Regions from separate parts of the Homo sapiens genome. Here region 1 is linked to region 2. The links come from fine-mapping of genetic effects on gene expression. A gene starts in region 2. The other region holds a variant in brackets. All regions are shown on one strand. Distances are between the middles of the regions.

Region 1 (8,382 bases), 37 kb before region 2:
TAGGAAGACTCAATATTATCAAGATGTCAGTTCATCCCAGTTTGAACTATAGAGTCAGCATAATCCCAATCAAAATCCTAACAAGTTATTTTGTGGATATTGACAAACCAATTCTAAAGTTTACATATCTAAAGGCATAAGATCCAGAACGGCCAACACAATATTGAAGGAGAACAAAGTCAGAGCACTGTTACTACCCAACTTTAAGACTTACTATAGGTTGGCACAGTGGCTCATGCCTGTAATCCCAGCACCTTGGGAAGCCGAGGTTGGTGGATCACCTGAAGTCAGGAGTTCAAGACGAGCCTGGCCAACATAGTGAAACCTTGTCTCTACTAAAAATACACGCCTGGGACTACAGGCGTGGTGGTATGTGCCTGCAGTCCCAGCAACTTGGGAGGCTGAGGCACAAGAATTGCTTGAACCCGGAAGGTGGAGGTTGCAGTGAGCTAAGATCACACCACTGCACTCCAGCCTAGGTGACAGAGTGAGACTCCATCTCAAAAAAAAAAAAAAAAAAAAGACATATTATAAAGCTACAGTAATTAAGGCAGTGTGGTATTGGTAAGAGGAGAAACAAATAGATAAATGGGACAGAATTGAGAGCTTAGAAATAGGCCCACATAGATATAGCCAACTGATTTTTTACAGAGGAGCAAAGGCAATACAATGGAAAAAAGATAGTCTCTTCAACAAATGGTGCTGAAACACCTGGACATTTACATGCCAAAACATGAATCTAGACACACGCCTTACACTTTTTGCAAAAATTAAAACAAAGTGGATCATAGACCTGAATGTAAAACTGTGAAACTCCTAGAAGACAACATAAGAGAAAATCTAGATGACCTTGGGTATGGCAATGACCTTTTAGATACAATCCATGAAATAAATAATTGATAAGCTGGACTTCATTAAAATTAAAAACTTCAGCCTGGTGCAGTGGTTCATGCTTATAATCCCAACAGTTTGGGAGACTGAGGTGGGAGGATCACTTGAGCCCAGGAGTCTGAGACCAGCCTGGGCAACATGGCAAAACCCCGTCTCTACAAAAAATACAAAAATTAGCCGGGTGTGGTGGTATGCACTTGTAGTCCCAGCTACTCAGGAGGCTGGGATGGGAGTATCACCTGAAGTCATGGCTGCAGTGAGCTGTGATTGTGCCACTGCACTCCAGTCTGGATGAAATCCTGTATCAAAAAAAAAAAAAAAAAGATTTAAAAACTTCTAGCCGGGCGCGGTGGCTCACGCCTTTAATCCCAGCACTTTGGGAGGCCAAGGCAGGTGGATCATGAGGTCAGGAGTTTGAAACCAGCCTGACCAATATGATGAAACCCCGTCTCTACTAAAAATACAAAAATTAGCTGGGTGTGGTGGTGCGCGCCTATAATCCCAGCTACTCAGGAGGCTGAAGTAAGAGAATTGCTTGGAGCCGGGAGACAGAGATTGCAGTGAGCTGAGATTGCGCCATTGCACTCCAGCCTGGGCAACAGAGCGAGAGCGAGACTCCGTCTCAAAACAACAACAACAACAACAACAACAACAACAACAACAACAAAAAACCTTCTGCTTTGTGAAAGGCACTGTCAAGAGAAGGAGAAGAGAAGTCATAGACTGGGAGAAAATATTTCTGCCAAATATATGCCTGACATAAGACTGTAATGCAAAACAAAGAACTCTTTAAAAAACAATAAGTAAAAGAACAGTTTGATTTAAACATGGGCAAAAGACCTGAAGACACCTCACCAAAGGAGAATACAGATGGCAAGGGGTTTATTTCTGGGCTTTTCAGTGTGTTTCATTGGTCTATATCTCTGTCTCCATGCCAGTACCACACAGAGGATTTTTAGGGCAGTGAAACTATTCTGTATGATTCTATTAATGACGGATCTATGTCATTATACATTTGTCAAAACCCATAGAATGAACAATACTAATGTAAATTTTGGACTTTGGGCAATAATGACATGTTAATGAAGGTTCATTGGTTTTAACAAGCACCATTCTGGTGCAGATTGTTAATAGATGGGGAGGCTATGCATGGATAGGGGCTAAAGGTGTGTGGGAACTCTGCACTTTCTGTATACTTTTGCTGTGAACCTAAAACTACTCTAAAAACTATGTGTGTGTGTGTGTGTGTGTGTGTATTTTGAGACAGAGTCTTGCTTGGTCTGTTGCCCAGGCTGGAGTGCAGTGGGGCATCTCGGCTTGCTGCAACCTCCGCTTCCCGGGTTCAAGCAATTCTCCTGCCTCAGCCTCCCGAGTAGCTGTGATTACAGGCACCTGCCACCGCGCCCAGCTAATTTTTGTATTTTTAGCAGAGACGGGATTTCATCACAGTGGCCAGGCTGGTCTTGAACTCCTGACCTCAGGTGATCTGCCCACCTCAGCCTCCCAAAATGCTGGGATTACAGGTGTGAGCCACCACACCTGACCAAAAAAAGAAATCTATCTTTTAAAAGTCTAATGAAAAGCTGATATGCAGCCAAGAATATGAAAGATGCCAGTGAGTTGCCTTTTAATCCATAAAAATTAATTAGGTATTATCATCATCAACATTTTTCTAAACAGAAGTTAAATGTTGCATCTGATGTTAAATGTTGTTGAAGTAGCAGAGTGAGGCTTTAACTCTTAGACTATGTGATTCCAAATTCTCTGCTAGCTCAATAGCATTGGAATAGCAATGAGATTTCATGAAAAATGATGAAGGCAAGTAAAGGTATCCTTTTGCTATGGAGTAGAAAGTTCTACCACAGGGATATCCAGGAAGTGAGAAAAGCCAGAAGAGATAAATGTGGCAGCCTCGGCTGGTCAGAGAATAATTCCCAAAGGAGATGATGCATGTGCTAAGAGTTTCTCAGCAAGTAGAAATGAACCTGTGGAACTCAAACAACTCAGCAAGAAAAAAACAAATAATCCCATCAAAAAGTGGGCGGTGGATAAGAATAGACAGTTCTCGGCCGGGCACAGTGGCTCACGCCTGTAATCCAGCACTTTAGGAGGCTGAGGTGGGCAGATCACGAGGTCAGGAGATCAAGACCATCCTGGCTAACACGGTGAAACCCCGTCTCTACTAAAAATACAAAAAATTAGCGGGGCATGGTGGCGGGCACCTGTAGTCCCAGCTACTCAGGAGGCTGAGGCAGGAGAATGGCGTGAACCCAGAAGGCGGAGCTTGCAGTGAGCCGAGATCGCACCACTGCACTCCAGCCTTGGGCAACAGAGCGAGACTCCACCTCAAAAAAAAAGAAGAAGAATAGACAGTTCTCAAAAGAAGATATACAGTCAACAAACACATGAAAAAAATGCTCAACATCACTAATCATCAGGGAAATGCAAATTAAAACTACAATAACATACCACCTTACTCCTGCAAGAATGGCCATAATTAAAAAGTCACAAAACAATAGATATTGATGGTGTGGAAGTAGTGAAAAGAGAACACTTTCACATTGCTGGTGGGGATGTAAATTAGTACAACCATACTGTAGAAAACAGTGTGGAGATTCCTTAAAGAACTAAAAGTAGATCTACCATTCAATCCAGCAATCCCACGACTGGGTATCTACCCAGAGGAAAAGAAGTCATTACATGAAAAAGACACTTGCACACGCATGTTTATAGCAGCACAATTCACAATTGCAAAGATATGGAACCAATCTAAATGCCCATTGACCAACAAGTGGATCAAGAAAATATGGTATATATACATCATGGAATACATCTCAGCCATAAAAAGGAACAAAATAATGTCTTTTGCAGCAACTTGGATGGAGCTGGAGGCCACTATTCTAAATGAAGTAACTTAGGAATGGAAAACCAAATACCATATGTTCTCACTCATAAGTGAAAGCTAAATTATGAGGACGCAAATGCCTAAGAACGTCATAATGGACTGTGGAAACTTGGGAGGGGGACAGTTGGGAGCAGAGTGAAGGATAAAAGACCATATACTGGGTACAGTATACACTGCTTTATGGATGCACTAAATCTCAGAAATCACCACGAAAGAACTTATCCATGTAACCAAAGCCCAACTATACCCCAAAAACTATTGAAATAAATATAAAAACAAATCCATTGAAGAGGCAAGCTGGATAGCTCCCATTTACCCTTTTAGACCTGCTCTACACTCTTTTACATCTCTCTCTGCAACCAGATTCTGGGGGCCTCTGGCTCCCAGCTGGGTGCAGCATATGGAGTGGTTGTTTTATTCTGGGCCGCCCAGTGCCAACACCAACGCATACAGCAGCCTCTGCAGGGGGCCCTCTTTCAACCCTTCTCTCACCTGTTTCTCATTAAAGTCCTTCTCTGTTGCCCCATCAGGGCTAGTAATACTAAGTGTCTCACCATTATTGCTAGCCGCAGGGTGATTCCTCTCCTTGTTAGTTTCTCTAAACACAGCCCACACTTT[T/C]GGAAAGAGGCCCTATGGTTCCATCTATCAAGAGGACCATCTGTCTCCTGCTGCAAACTTGACCAATACAGAACAACATTAAAATCAGAAGAACAATATTAAAATCAGCTGGGCATTGAGGAGTGAATGGGCATGGAGAATTAGGGTAAATTCTGGAACAGGGGTCCCCAACCCCCTTCGCAGTACTGGTCCATGGCCTGTTAGGAGCCAGGCCATAGAGCAGAAGGTGAGCAGTGGGTGAGTAAGCAAAGCTTCGCCTGTATTTACAGCCACGCCCCATCACCGGCATTACCACCTGAGCACCTCCTCCTGTCTGATCAGCAGCATTAGATTCTCATAGGAGTGCAAACCCCATTGTGAACTGCGCATGCGAGGGATCTAGGTTGCAGGTTCCTTACCATAACCTAATGCTTGATGATCTGTCACTGTCTCCCATCACCCTTTGATAGGACCATCTCTAGTTGCAGGAAAACAAGCTCAGGGCTCCTACTGACTCTGCATTCTGGTGAGTTGTATAATCATTTCTTTACATATTACAATGTAATAATAATAGAAATAAAGTGCACAATAAACGTAATGCGCTTGAATCATCCCGAAATCACCTCCCCACCCCGCCCCTAGTCTGTGGAAAAATTGTCTTCCACAAAACTGGTCTCCGGTGCCAAAAAGGTTGGGGGCCACTGTTTTAGAAGACTCATATGGCAGAATTATAGATTACAAGGTTCAATAAATGCCAGGATTGTGGCTGGAAAGGAGGGTAGAAGTCAATTCCAGAAGGTGCCTTTCCTGTTGTGCAGTTGACTCAGAACTGGGATGCTAGAAAGTTGCCCTGTGATTTGTGGAGGGAATCCACACTAACCACAGGAAATCACCCATGACATTTGCAAGACAGAAGGAAGGAGAAACTGAACTAAGGGGTGGTAGCAGAACTGGACAGGAGGTAGTGCAGAGAAGAATTATTTACATGTTGAACCAATGGAGTTAAGAACTAAATGCTGGACCTCTTTTTTTTTTTTTTTTGGTGGAGATGGGATCTCACTATGTTGCCCCAGCTAGAGTGCAGTGGTGCAAACAAGGCTCACTGCAGCCTCAACCTCTTGGGCTCAAGTAATCCTCCTGCCTCAGCCTCCTGAGTAGCTGGGACTACAGGCACATGCCACCATGCCCAGCTAATTTTTAAAATGTTTATACAGATGAGGTCTCACTATGTTGCCGAGGCTAGTCTCAAACTCCTGAGCTCAAGTGATCCTCCCACCTTGGCCTCCCTAACTGCTGGGAACCACTGCACCCAGCCTACTGGGCATTTTTTAATGCCCAGCCTTAGCAAGGCATCTGCCTCACAGCAGACACTCAATGACTAGCACCTGGTGAATTTAGTCCAGTCGCGCCTTGATCTCCACCCAGCAGGTTATCAGTATTTGACTATACTAAACATTTCATTTAAAGAATGCTTTGAGCCCGGGCATGGTGGCTCATGCCTGTAACCCCAGCACTTTGGGAGGCCGAGGCGGGCAGATCACCTGAGGTCAGGGGTTTGAGACCAGGCTGGCCAACATAGTGAAATCCCGTCTCTACCAAAAATACAAAAATTAGCTGGGCATGATGGCGCACACCTGTAATCCCAGCTACATGGGAGGCTGAGGCAGGAGAATCACTTAAACCTGGGAGGCAGAGATTGCAGTGAGCTGAGATTGCGCCACTGCACTCCAGCTTGGGTGACTGAGACTCTGTCTCAAAAAAAAAAAAATGCTCTGCATGCCCGCCTGTAACCAAAAATAAATATTAATTGCTGAGTTACTTTTACTGTGGAAAAACTACTCATCTGCTTGACATTGCTCTTTCACCAAGGGGCATTCTGTTGTTTCACCTCTGCAATTTAAAATTTCTAGTGAAATTAAATTCTGTTACTTGTTGTGGCTGTGTACCATCTTAAACTATCATTAATCACAAAGACAGATAATACCAAGGAATGATTTCAATGCCGCACCTGCAAGTGGCGGAGAACTGCAAGCTGGAATCAGCCTCTGCCGAGGTGCAGGCCCCAAGAGACAGCAGCATCTGTGTAGAAACCAAACACATGCATTTTTTTCCTCTGTGTTTATAGAATTGTCTTCCGTTTACGGTCATTGATGCTGGATTTCCACGTACACAGGGATATGAAGTTTCCCATTTTAACAGATTCCCATTTTTAAGTAGAAGTATAGAAAAACTCTAAAAGTTAAATGATGAATAGTAGGTTTGGCAAGGACTGTTCCGTTTACCTAGTGCTGCACTAAAAAGCCATCCCAAAACAATGGCTTGAAACAATAGCCGAGGTTTATTTTGCTCAGGAATCTGGGGCTGACTGGGCTGCTAGGCAGCTGTTGCCTGGGGGCATCTCTAAGGTTCCAGTCCATGGAGGCTGCAGTCACACGCGAGTGTCCTCACTCACGCGCCCAGTGTCTGGGCTGGTAAGACTCCAGGCACTGGATGCTGGATAGGCTGGGCCTATTGGGTCTCTCTCTCTGAGGCGTCCCCACACAGCAGCTCAGGGCTGCCAGACTCCCAGCATGATGGTTAAAGGCTCCCAGAACAAGGATCCCAGGAGAACTGGCAGGACCTATGTGGCTTTCTATAAGCAGCCTCAGAAGGCACTCGGCTCTCTCCTGCTGTAATCATTAAGGGCTGTGGTTTAAGGTGAGGTTCGTGGCCTCTGTGTCTTGATGGGGAGAGTGTGGAAGAATTGGTGGATATGTTTGAAAGCCACCACCAGGGCAGAAAAAAAAATACTGAGAGGCTGAACATTAGGGGATATGGGGAAATGCCCCTGCAGGTTTTGAAAGTCTTTCTCACTTGGGGTTTGCCTGACCTCCCTGCAACTCATTTCCCAGCTCTCTGCATTCTGGAAAGTCATGCCCTTCTACCTCTGGGCCTTTGACTCTGCCTTCCCCCCTGCCAGGCAAGCCATTCCTCCCTCTGGCAAATTCATTCTTCAAGATCCAGTTTCATGGTGCTGTCTGCTAAGACAGGGCCCCCACCTCTGCCCTCTTCCTGCTGTGACCACACAGACTAGGCATGTTTTGCAGACTCTTTCTCCAGAAGGACCGGGCACACAGGAAACCAATGACCACTCACTTCCCCAAGGTCATCTTTCCTCAGAGGCACTGGCAAGACTCACTGTGTAAGCACAGGTTGATTTCAGCTCACCTGCTGTCATCCGTGCTTGTCCCTGGGGATGCCTTGGCCAAACCTGAAAGAAATGCAGGAACCAGTGATGAATAGTCCTGTGCTAGTGCCTGAGACAGGCCGGGGGCCTCCTGCAGCCACTTGTCCGCACTGCTCATGTACAGATGCGTGGGTGCACCTGCTTGCTCGTATGTCCGCCTGGTTTGGCTGCATGACAGCAAGGTATAAAAGATCCTTTCTGGTTTGAAACAGTGGTTCCCTGAGGTCAAGGTATCTCCCATGTGCCTGCTGGCCCCTTTCTCTCTCCTCCAGTGCTCTCTGCCGCCCCTTAAAAGGGTCCACCACATTTCCCACGAGGATCAAAGCAATTGTGTGGGAGAGAAGAGCTTGCCTCTGAAGGCAGGCCTTGGAGATGGCCTCTTATTGATGGTCCTCACCCCTTCCTCATGGTCCTGTGCTAACCAGGCCACACAGACCGAGTCCTCACTGCACCAGGCACCGCTGCCCCAGCTCCAGGCTGCCACCCTCTGGGCTCCAGCAGCTGGGGGTGCAGAGAGCACCTGGCTCCTCAGGACACAGAGGAAGCACCTCAATGCTCCCCTGGGCAGCTCAGCCATGCAGGTCCTTTCAAGCTATCAGAGCAGGGAAAGATGTCACTGTCCCCAGAGGAGACAGTGGGCAGGGTGCATCTGTCCCAGCCATCAGCAACCTCCACCCAAAGGCACCCCATGCACTCCAGTTAGCTCTGTCTTCACATGCCCTGGCATGAGCTGCAGCACTGCTCTGAGCTCCGGGAGCCAAGG
Region 2 (8,382 bases):
GGCCTGCTCATTCCTCTGCTCAAATATCCACCATGGATCCCAAGTGCCCAGGATAGTATTAGTAGTGCCCTGGTCTTAGCCTCCTTTCCATCAAGTCTCCCTTCAGGGATTCTGCAGTCTCTATAAACAGGGTCATACTGTCAGAGGATCCCAGCCCTGTCCTCTAGCCCATGGTTCGGGACTCCCTGTCACCCAACCAGGCTGTGTAAGCAAGGAGAGTTTTGGAGGTATGGGGGAGTCCGGAGGCCTCCTGCTAGAGCCACGAATGATGGGCAAGAAATGAAAAGGAAGACAGGACCCAGCAGGCAAGTGGAGGAACCCTGAGAGTAAAGGCTCATGGGTGTGAGGGCCCAGCCTCTGAGGGCAGCCCACCAAGCAGCACCCCAAAGGACCACAGCTTCACTGTGCCTCAGTCGGCCGTGGACAGCCATGGAGGACTTTAGAGCAAGGTAATGATGGGATCCAAAGTCACATTTGGGGAAATAAATGTATGACAGTTGTAGAGGAGATAGTGCCAGGCAGTGAGAGAGAGTTCAATGTGGATGGGAGCCTGGACCCTCCATGGTCCCCTAACCAGACAGAGGGATCACTGATCACAACCATCCACCCTGAAGGGGTGCCTGCTGGATGGGTGGGGGCCCTTGGGGTGGGCAGGTGGGCTTGAGCCTTGAGATTTCCTGCCCTGGAGTGAGGGACCTTCCAATCAGGCAGGAATCACCTGGGAATGCAGTGTCCTGCCTAAAGGGAGGGGTGAAGAGAGGCCTGGGCTCAAACCTACCCCCACAGCCAGGCTACAGGCTCTACTCCAACAAAGCCCTCCCCTACCAGACCCTGGTACCCTCACTTGGCAATGTTCATCTGCCCAAATGACCTGATCAGGTATCTGGGGCGGAGAGTTAGAGGGTCTTTTAGCCCAAGACCCGCAGACTGTCTCTCTCCTTGTCTCTGACACGCTGAGGCTTTGGAGTTAGCCAACCTGTGTGGGGCAGGGGACAAAATCAGGGCAGCCAACGATGGGCAGGTGACACAGGCAGACCCAAAAGGGTGAGTGGGAAGGGGTCTCAGCCCTCCCCTCTCCACCCTGCCCCGAGAGTGCCATGCGGGCATCCCAGGCCCCTGGCAGAGCCTACAACTCCCAGGGAATTGGCTCTGGAATGGAGTGGGGCGGGTCCCTCAGAGCTCTGGCCAAAGGCCCAGGCCAGGCATTCCTGCCCCACCTTTCCTGCTACTGCTGCTTCGAGAGGGTGAGGCTGCAGAGAGAGAGGCAGGAAGGGGAAGCCACCAGACACCCAGCTGCAGCTTCTGTGCTGCAGCTTCTTCTCCCTCTGTGGGCCCCTGAGGCAGACCCAGGCCCCCAGGACACAGGGGGCTCCAGGTCAGCTCAGGCAGACAAGGAAAGCCCAGCCAAGGGAATAGGGGTGCAGCCAGGCCCACCTAACTCTCACCCGTATCTCCCGAAACTGCTGGAATGGAAAGGCGCTTTGGGGGTGACCTTTTCACTCTCAGCTGGCAGTCAGCTGGGGTCTAAGCTAAGAGGTGAGGATATCCAAGCCTGGTTGGGAAGGTAGAAGAAAGGGTGAGGCTAGGATAGGAGATGCAGACTAGGAACCAGATCAGTGCACGTTGAAAAGATACTGCAGTAAATAACTCGCTGCTAGGAAGACTTGAACACCAACATCCCTACACTCTCCGGGGGGCCAGCACCATGACCCCAGCCGACACCATACCCTGGCAAGGAGCTCTCTGACCCTAGAGATAGCCTCTCCTCCTCAGGCTTCCTGTCCCTCGTCCCCACTGCCCAGTCTCAGCTGCTCCCCCAGGAGCAGCCCTCACCTGGCTGCTCAGCCCTGGACATGCTTCAACTTATCCACAGCCTTACTCCTCTCTGTACCTCAGCCACCCCTCTACGAAATGGGGGTTCAACCAGATCACAGCATTTTTTTCTTTTTATTTGTTTGTATTTCTTTCTATTCTTTTTTTTTTTTTTTTTTAGAGATGGGATCTCACTATGTTGACGAGGCTGGTCTCAAACTCCTAGCCTCAAGTGATCAACCCATCTTGGCCTCCCAAAGTGCTGGGATTACAGGCGTGAGCCACTGCGCCCAGCCAAAGAGGATCACAGCTTTTCAAACTACTTAAGTCTCCCCTCAAAAGGACAAACAGGTGGAAGGGGGCTTCTCTGGGTGTGGGGATCTGGTCCTTAGACTCCCCACCCCACAAAGCAGCCTATGACTCCGGGGGTGAGTCCTCCAGACTCAAGTTGGCAACTGTTAATCTGGGAGTCTTCCACATCTGTGGCCCCAAAGGGATCTATAACCCTGGGAAACTGAGTCACACCACCCAGAGGAACGGGCAGAAGTTAAGCATGGCTGGTGAGGCAGTGGGTTGGGGGAAGGCCGCAGTGGAAGCTGGGATTCTGGTTAGGTGACCCTGAGGGACCCAGCTCCCAGGCTAGGGAGTCTGGGGCTTCATCCTGGAAGTGATGAGGAGAGTGTAAGTGCAGGGGTGAGGCAGCGTGAATGTGCATGAGTGTGCACGTTTGCAGGGCAGGAGGAGGAGGTGCTGAACCTTAATATGAGGAGGATCCTGCAGGAGTACCCCCCTCCCCAACCCCTGTCCCATCCCTAACCTTCCCCCTTCCAGTCAAGGGCATAGCTTCCTCACCCTCTCCCTCCCTCCAGTTCAAAGGTTCCTTAGTGACAGGCTGTGCCTAATGTACAGATGGGGAAACTGAGGCCCAGGAACAATGGGAGGGTCCAGAGACCCTTGTGTAGAACTTGTGCAGGGCTCAGACCCAGACTTCTGGCTCCAGCCCACCAGGTTCACCTAGCTAGATGGCTCAGAGAGGGTGGGCAACTCACCTGAGGCACAGAGCAAGATCCTGACGGGCCCTGCCTCACAGCTGTCCTCAGGCAGCCCTGATGCTCACCACGGGGTGCGGTGGGGTGGGGCAGGGTGAGGACAGAACTGGCCAGTCACGGCGTGCCCAGGTGAGTCAGCGGCTGCCCCTGTGGCGCTCTAACCAGTAGCCAGACCTGGTCTCTCCTCTGCATTCCTGGCCTCTGTCCACGCTAGGTCCCTCCCGGGCAGGGTCACTGGGGCCTTCCCTGTCCTCTCCCAGGCCTGGCTCCTTAGGCCCCTGACACACCTTGTCGTGACACTCACTCACTCTGGTATTTCCTGGTCTGAACAGGCAGGGAAGTTCTGCCTGCTGTGGAGGCTTTTTCATGGGCTGCCGTGGCAGCCCCTTCGTTGTCTGGTGCCCAGTGGGGGAGAGTAGAGACACGCACTGCCCCAGGGAGGGGGCGCTGAACTGTCACACCTGATCCCTCAGTCTCATGCTCGCCTCTCCCCGCTGCACCCTTCCTCGGCCCCACCATGGCTACAAGCCTCTTGTCCTAGACAAGCACCCCTCCCTGCTGTCGCATATGTCCCAGCTTCCCTTCCTCTCCCTGCCCAGGCACACACTCAGTCGCTGGAGTTTCCCAGACCCGAGCTCCTGTTCCGGCCGCCAGGCATTTGCCATGCCGCTCCCATGCGAAAAGGCCACCTCCTGGAATCCCGGGTCGGGCCCTTCCGCCCTAACCAGCCGGCGTCACCTCCTCCTGGCAGTCTCTCCTGCTGGCTGGGGCCCCGTGGCCCTGCCACCACGGCTCAGGTCAGGCCCGGGGCGCTGCCCCGAACCCAAGCAGGCTAGCAGCCAGGCAGGGAGGACGACGCTGTGAGCGGGGTATCTTACGAGGGACTCGGACGGCCGGGGGATGACTGCCGCCGGGACCAAGGAGCTGGGCGGGGACCGCAGCAGCCGAGGAGGCGGGAGCCCCCACCTGGACGAGCTAAGCGTGGAGCGCAGACACCCGTCCGCAGACGCGCGCCCTTCGTCGCGCCCTTACCTGAGCGCTGTGGTTGCCCCGCGCCGGGACTGCCTGTGCGGCTCCTCGCTCGCACCCCCACCCTGCCCCCTGCCAGTCCCGCCCCCTGCCAGCCCCGCCCCCTTCGCCCAGCCCCGCCCCGCCCCGCCTCCGGGTGTTGCTCTGGAGTTGCGGGGGCCACGGGCGGGCCACCGAGGAGCTGGCGCGCGGTATTGATCCGTCCCGCCGCCCCAAGCCTCTCCTGAGGCCTCCCTCTGGCGTCCCCCGGGATCCGGAGGCCCCTGGGACCCGGCGCGGGGAGGAAAAGTGGGAGTCTTGACCCCTCCGCCCCCTACGCACCCACGCGCACACTCAGGCTCGCCTCTCGCGCCCCGCTTCCCCTGCAAGGCTCCGAGGCCGCCGTGCCACCACCTCGCCCCGCCAGTCAGTCGCTCTGCGAGCCTGTGGTGCAGCCCCGTGACCTCCCGGGTCTGCCCTGAGTCACAGAAGCCAGCACACGCGGAGCGCTGTGTGGGTTCGTGGAACTTGGAGCCTGTAGAGGGGTATACTGAGGCGCCCTGCGGCCCCCTGGGCTGGGTGTCCACGGCCGGCCGCCCCTCCTGTGCGACCTTGGGGAAGTCCCCTTTCCTCCCCACTCCTGAGTCTCAACAGGCCTAGTAGAGCATGAAGCCGGCCGCGTGTGCTTTGTGCGAAGGCCTGAGACCTTGGAAAGGGTGGCTGAAGACTTATCTGGGACAGACCCCCCGGGAGCGGGAGGGAACTTAGTTCAAACCTGTAACAAAGAAGCCCCCCGTCAGCAGCCTGATTCCCCCTCTGGCCACCAGGTTAGTCACCCATTGCTCTCAGTGGCACTCAGGTTCCAGTGAGGGGGAGGCTCAGGGTCCAAGGCGGCCGTGGAAGAGCAGAAAGGGTGGCCCACCAGCCCCCTACTCAGCCCCCTACTGAGGAGGTGGGAGGCATCCCCCAACCTGCCAGGCTGAAGAGACCCCCAGTGGAGGTAAGTAGGGGCCTGGGGCCTGCCAAGCTCATCCCCTGGCTCCCTTGGGTTGTTGCGAGGTGGGAGTTTACTGTCTGCCAAGCTGCACATCACCCCTTGGAGGGTTTCCAGCCTGGGACCCTTGTCTGAGTGACTGCAGGTCCCAGTGACCTCACCCTTTTGCCCCACATTGCTCTCCTCCTGGGTCCCAATCCTGCAGAGCCGCCCCTTCCTGCTTCTCCATCCCTCCCCACATTGCCAAAGCCCGCCCTAGCTCTGGCCTCCCCTTTTCCAGCCTTGTTTTCTTGCCCCCTTCTGCACCCCCTGCTGCCTGAGGGGCTCCACTCCCAAAGGCCTTGCTCCTCTGGTCCCTGCCTGCTAGAGGTGTTGCTGTGTTGGTGGGTGGGGGCTACCTCAAGGAGGCTTCTGGTGAGGTGTCCCTCTGGCCCTCTGGGAAAGCCTCCCCTCCCCATGCCCTCCACCCCCAGGCTCCGGACCTTGGCCCCCACTCCCCTTCACAGCCCTGTTGGCCTGCGGGACTGTCTGCTGGGGCACTTGGCTCCCTGAGTCTACAGCACAGCCTGGCAGAGCCACCGCCCCAGCAGGTGGAATGAACTGAGGCTTCAGGTTCTAAACAGGCCTCCAAGGTCTTCCCTGTGGGGATCCTTTGTGCCTGTGGGGCAGTGGGAGGTAGCGGTACATTCTGGAAGAGCTGGTATGGGGCCTTGTGCTGCTTTCCTCTTGCTGTGTGATCACAGGCAGTGTGTGGCCTCTCTGTAACGTAGTGCCCCTGCTGGTGAAATATCTTACCTGCGCCTCCTTCTCGGGGTTATGTGGGACTCTGAGAGGAGGGGTATGGTGGGTTCAAGGGGCTCCTTCAGGGATGAGCACGGTTTAGAGGATCTATGGGTCCCCTAGAGCATGGGTGTGGGCCACCAGGCATCCCTGGGGCTTAGGAGGGAGGCAAGGGCTGGAGAGTGGCCATGGCCTCAGGAGGAGCATATGGCCTCACCACTTGTGACGAACAGGGACAGGTGGGGCAAGGCCCCGAGCAGGACAGATCTGATCTTATGCTAGGTGTCTCTGGGCCTCACTTTCATCATCTGCACGTGCAGCTGAGGGAAGGCAGTGCTGCCTGGGCTCGAGCAGGAAGGGAAGGGCTCCCACGGCTTCCTCCCTAGAGCACAGACTTCCTGTTCAGCCACATCTAGGGGAATAGAAAGGCTGACTGAGCTCTGGGCAGCAGACCAGTCCTTCCCCCATTCCCTGGGTGACCTCATGGGCATTGCAAGCCCAGTTTTCCTATCTGCTAAATGGGGCAAGACCTGCCCAGCCTCTCTTACAGCTCATTCTTGGCTTGGGGCCAGGTAAGGCCTCTGGTAGTGCCCAAAGGACAGCCTCTGCTGAGTCCACCTGCCTTCAGTCCCCTGCAGCACAGCCAAGGGCCCCTAGCCAATCCCACCACAGATGTGTATACCCACCCACACCACTCCCACACCCGCTGCACACAGATACAATTCCACAGTCAGGGAATGGGTGGGTCCCTGTGCCACATGGACCCATCTACCATTGAACCCACTGGTAAGGACTCCAAGTTGCACAACTCTAGTGGCAGCCCTGGGTATGCGTGTGCAGATCATGTGCCCATCCACAGGGACACAGACCTGCACACTACTCCAGGGAACACACACGTATGTGAATGGCACCTGTGATTCTGGAGCCATTGAGACTCATACCCAGCCACACACAAAGCTGCATGCAGAATGCACATGCACTCCCATGTGCACCAGTGCCTTAGTACACAAAGCACATGCTCAAGCACACGCAGGTCTGACACAGGCCTGGCCCAGCCCCACAGCTATTCTGAGCTGAGCCTGGGGCTGATGAGGTCAGGGACAGCCAACTCCCAGCAGGCCCCAGCTGCTGTGGCACAGGCCTAGGCTGCCCAGCTCCCACCCCCACCCTAGGCTGAGTCCCTGGATCCTAGCCTAGCTTTGTGACTGGGGGTCCTCATTTCCTACCCCCAGCTCCCCCAGAGCTAAACTTTAAGCCCTGGGATTTCAGGCTCCAGGAGAGAACATTCCACAGGGTCCTCTGGCCACTACCCCCTGCCTTGCTCACAGCTTCCAGTTCAGAGGCCCTGGAGGCTGGACTGGGTCCCTACAGGAAACTCACAGGAGCTAAAATTAGTACAGGAGGGAGAAGCAGGGATCTGCAGACCAGCATTCACAGCACCATGTATGGAGGGGACACTGTCTTCCAGGGAGCAAGGGTGGGGGACTTGGAGTCCAGAGGTCCCCAACCCCAGATATGATGGGCCCAACTGATTTTGGGGTGCAGGGGGATGTGGAGGCCTCCTAAGAAGCAGAAACAGTACTGGACACTGAGCAGTGTCCTGGGTTGGAGGCAAAGGCTGAGGTGGAGGCCATAGTTCCTGTGTGACCTTAGGCAGGGCATAACCCCTCTATGAGCTTAAATTCCTCACTGAAAAGCCCTCAGAGATGTAAAGTCCCTCAAAGATGGGGGAAAAAAAAACCCATGTGGTGTTAGGTATTGATTTTCATCCTCGGCTACTGGCTCATAGCTCCCATTGCCCTTGTTACGGTCTTTGGCTATAATGTGTTGGGCCTCAGGGCAGGCCCCAGGAAACGGAATCTCTCTGACCTTCTCCTGCTCTGCTTTCACCTGCCCCAAGTCAGGACCCTAATTTTCCCACACCTTTCTGATTGCGAGTCTTAAGACCCTCCCCAGAGAGGGTCCTGCCCTATACTCTGGGAGGAAGGAATGCAGATGTCGTGAAGCCTCCATAAACCCCAAGAGGACAGGGTTCAGAGGGCTTCTGAATAGCTGAACGTGTGGAGGCTGGGTGGCATGCCCAGGAGGGCATGGAAGCTCCATACCCCTTCCTCCATATCTCGCCCTATGCATCTCTTCAGCTGTATCCTTCGTAATACCCTTTACAGTAAGCCAGTAAAAGTCAGTCAGTGCTTCCCTGAGTTCTGTGACCCACTCCAGCAAATTAAGCCCAAAGAGGAGGTTGTAGGAACCCCAGCGTGAAGCCAGTTGGTCAGAAGTTCCAGAGGCCAGACTGGCAACTGGTGTCTTGGGGCTGGGTGGGCAGTCTTGGGAACTGAGGCCTCAATCTGTGGGATCTGACACTATCTCCGGGTAGATCATGTCAGAATCGAATTGGAAGGCACTCAGTTGGTGTCTGCTGCTTGGCATTTAGGGAAAAAACCCACACATTTGATCACAGAAGACTTCTGTGTGGATGATTGTTGTTGTGTTGGTGTACGAGCAGAGGAAAAGATATAGTTTGAGAGAGTTTTCAAAACTACTTTAACTTTCAGGATGTTCGCCTTAACGTGGTGTTTAATACTGGAGAATTGGAAGCAATGGAAATGTCCAACAATAGGACAGAGATCCAACAAGGTTTTTTGTTTCTTTTGTTTTGTTTTGTTTTGTTTCTTTTTTTTGAGATGGAGTCTTGCTTTCGCCCAGGCTGGAGTGCAGTGGCGCCATCTCAGCTCACTG

The links. PIP is the estimated chance that this variant, and not a neighbour inherited with it, causes the effect.
Region 1: its variant is fine-mapped to the expression of ALS2CL in cerebellar hemisphere (GTEx, PIP above 0.99). The same link has a PIP of 0.9 or more in cerebellum.

The regions. Positions count from the first base shown.
Region 1 is chr3:46,652,634-46,661,015 of GRCh38, forward strand. No RefSeq gene overlaps it. Among named protein-coding and RNA genes, the nearest start is that of ALS2CL, 37 kb to the right of the region's middle. RefSeq lists an enhancer at 8,162-8,382. The variant T/C (reference allele first, on the strand shown) is at 4,415.
Region 2 is chr3:46,689,750-46,698,131 of GRCh38, forward strand. ALS2CL (ALS2 C-terminal like) reads right to left here and starts at 3,930. Exons shown (of 26, transcript NM_147129.5): 1 at 3,894-3,930. It also overlaps a transcript of TMIE not described here. RefSeq lists enhancers at 2,494-3,285, 4,867-5,656, 6,746-7,245 and silencers at 3,730-4,024, 3,755-4,004, 4,155-4,234.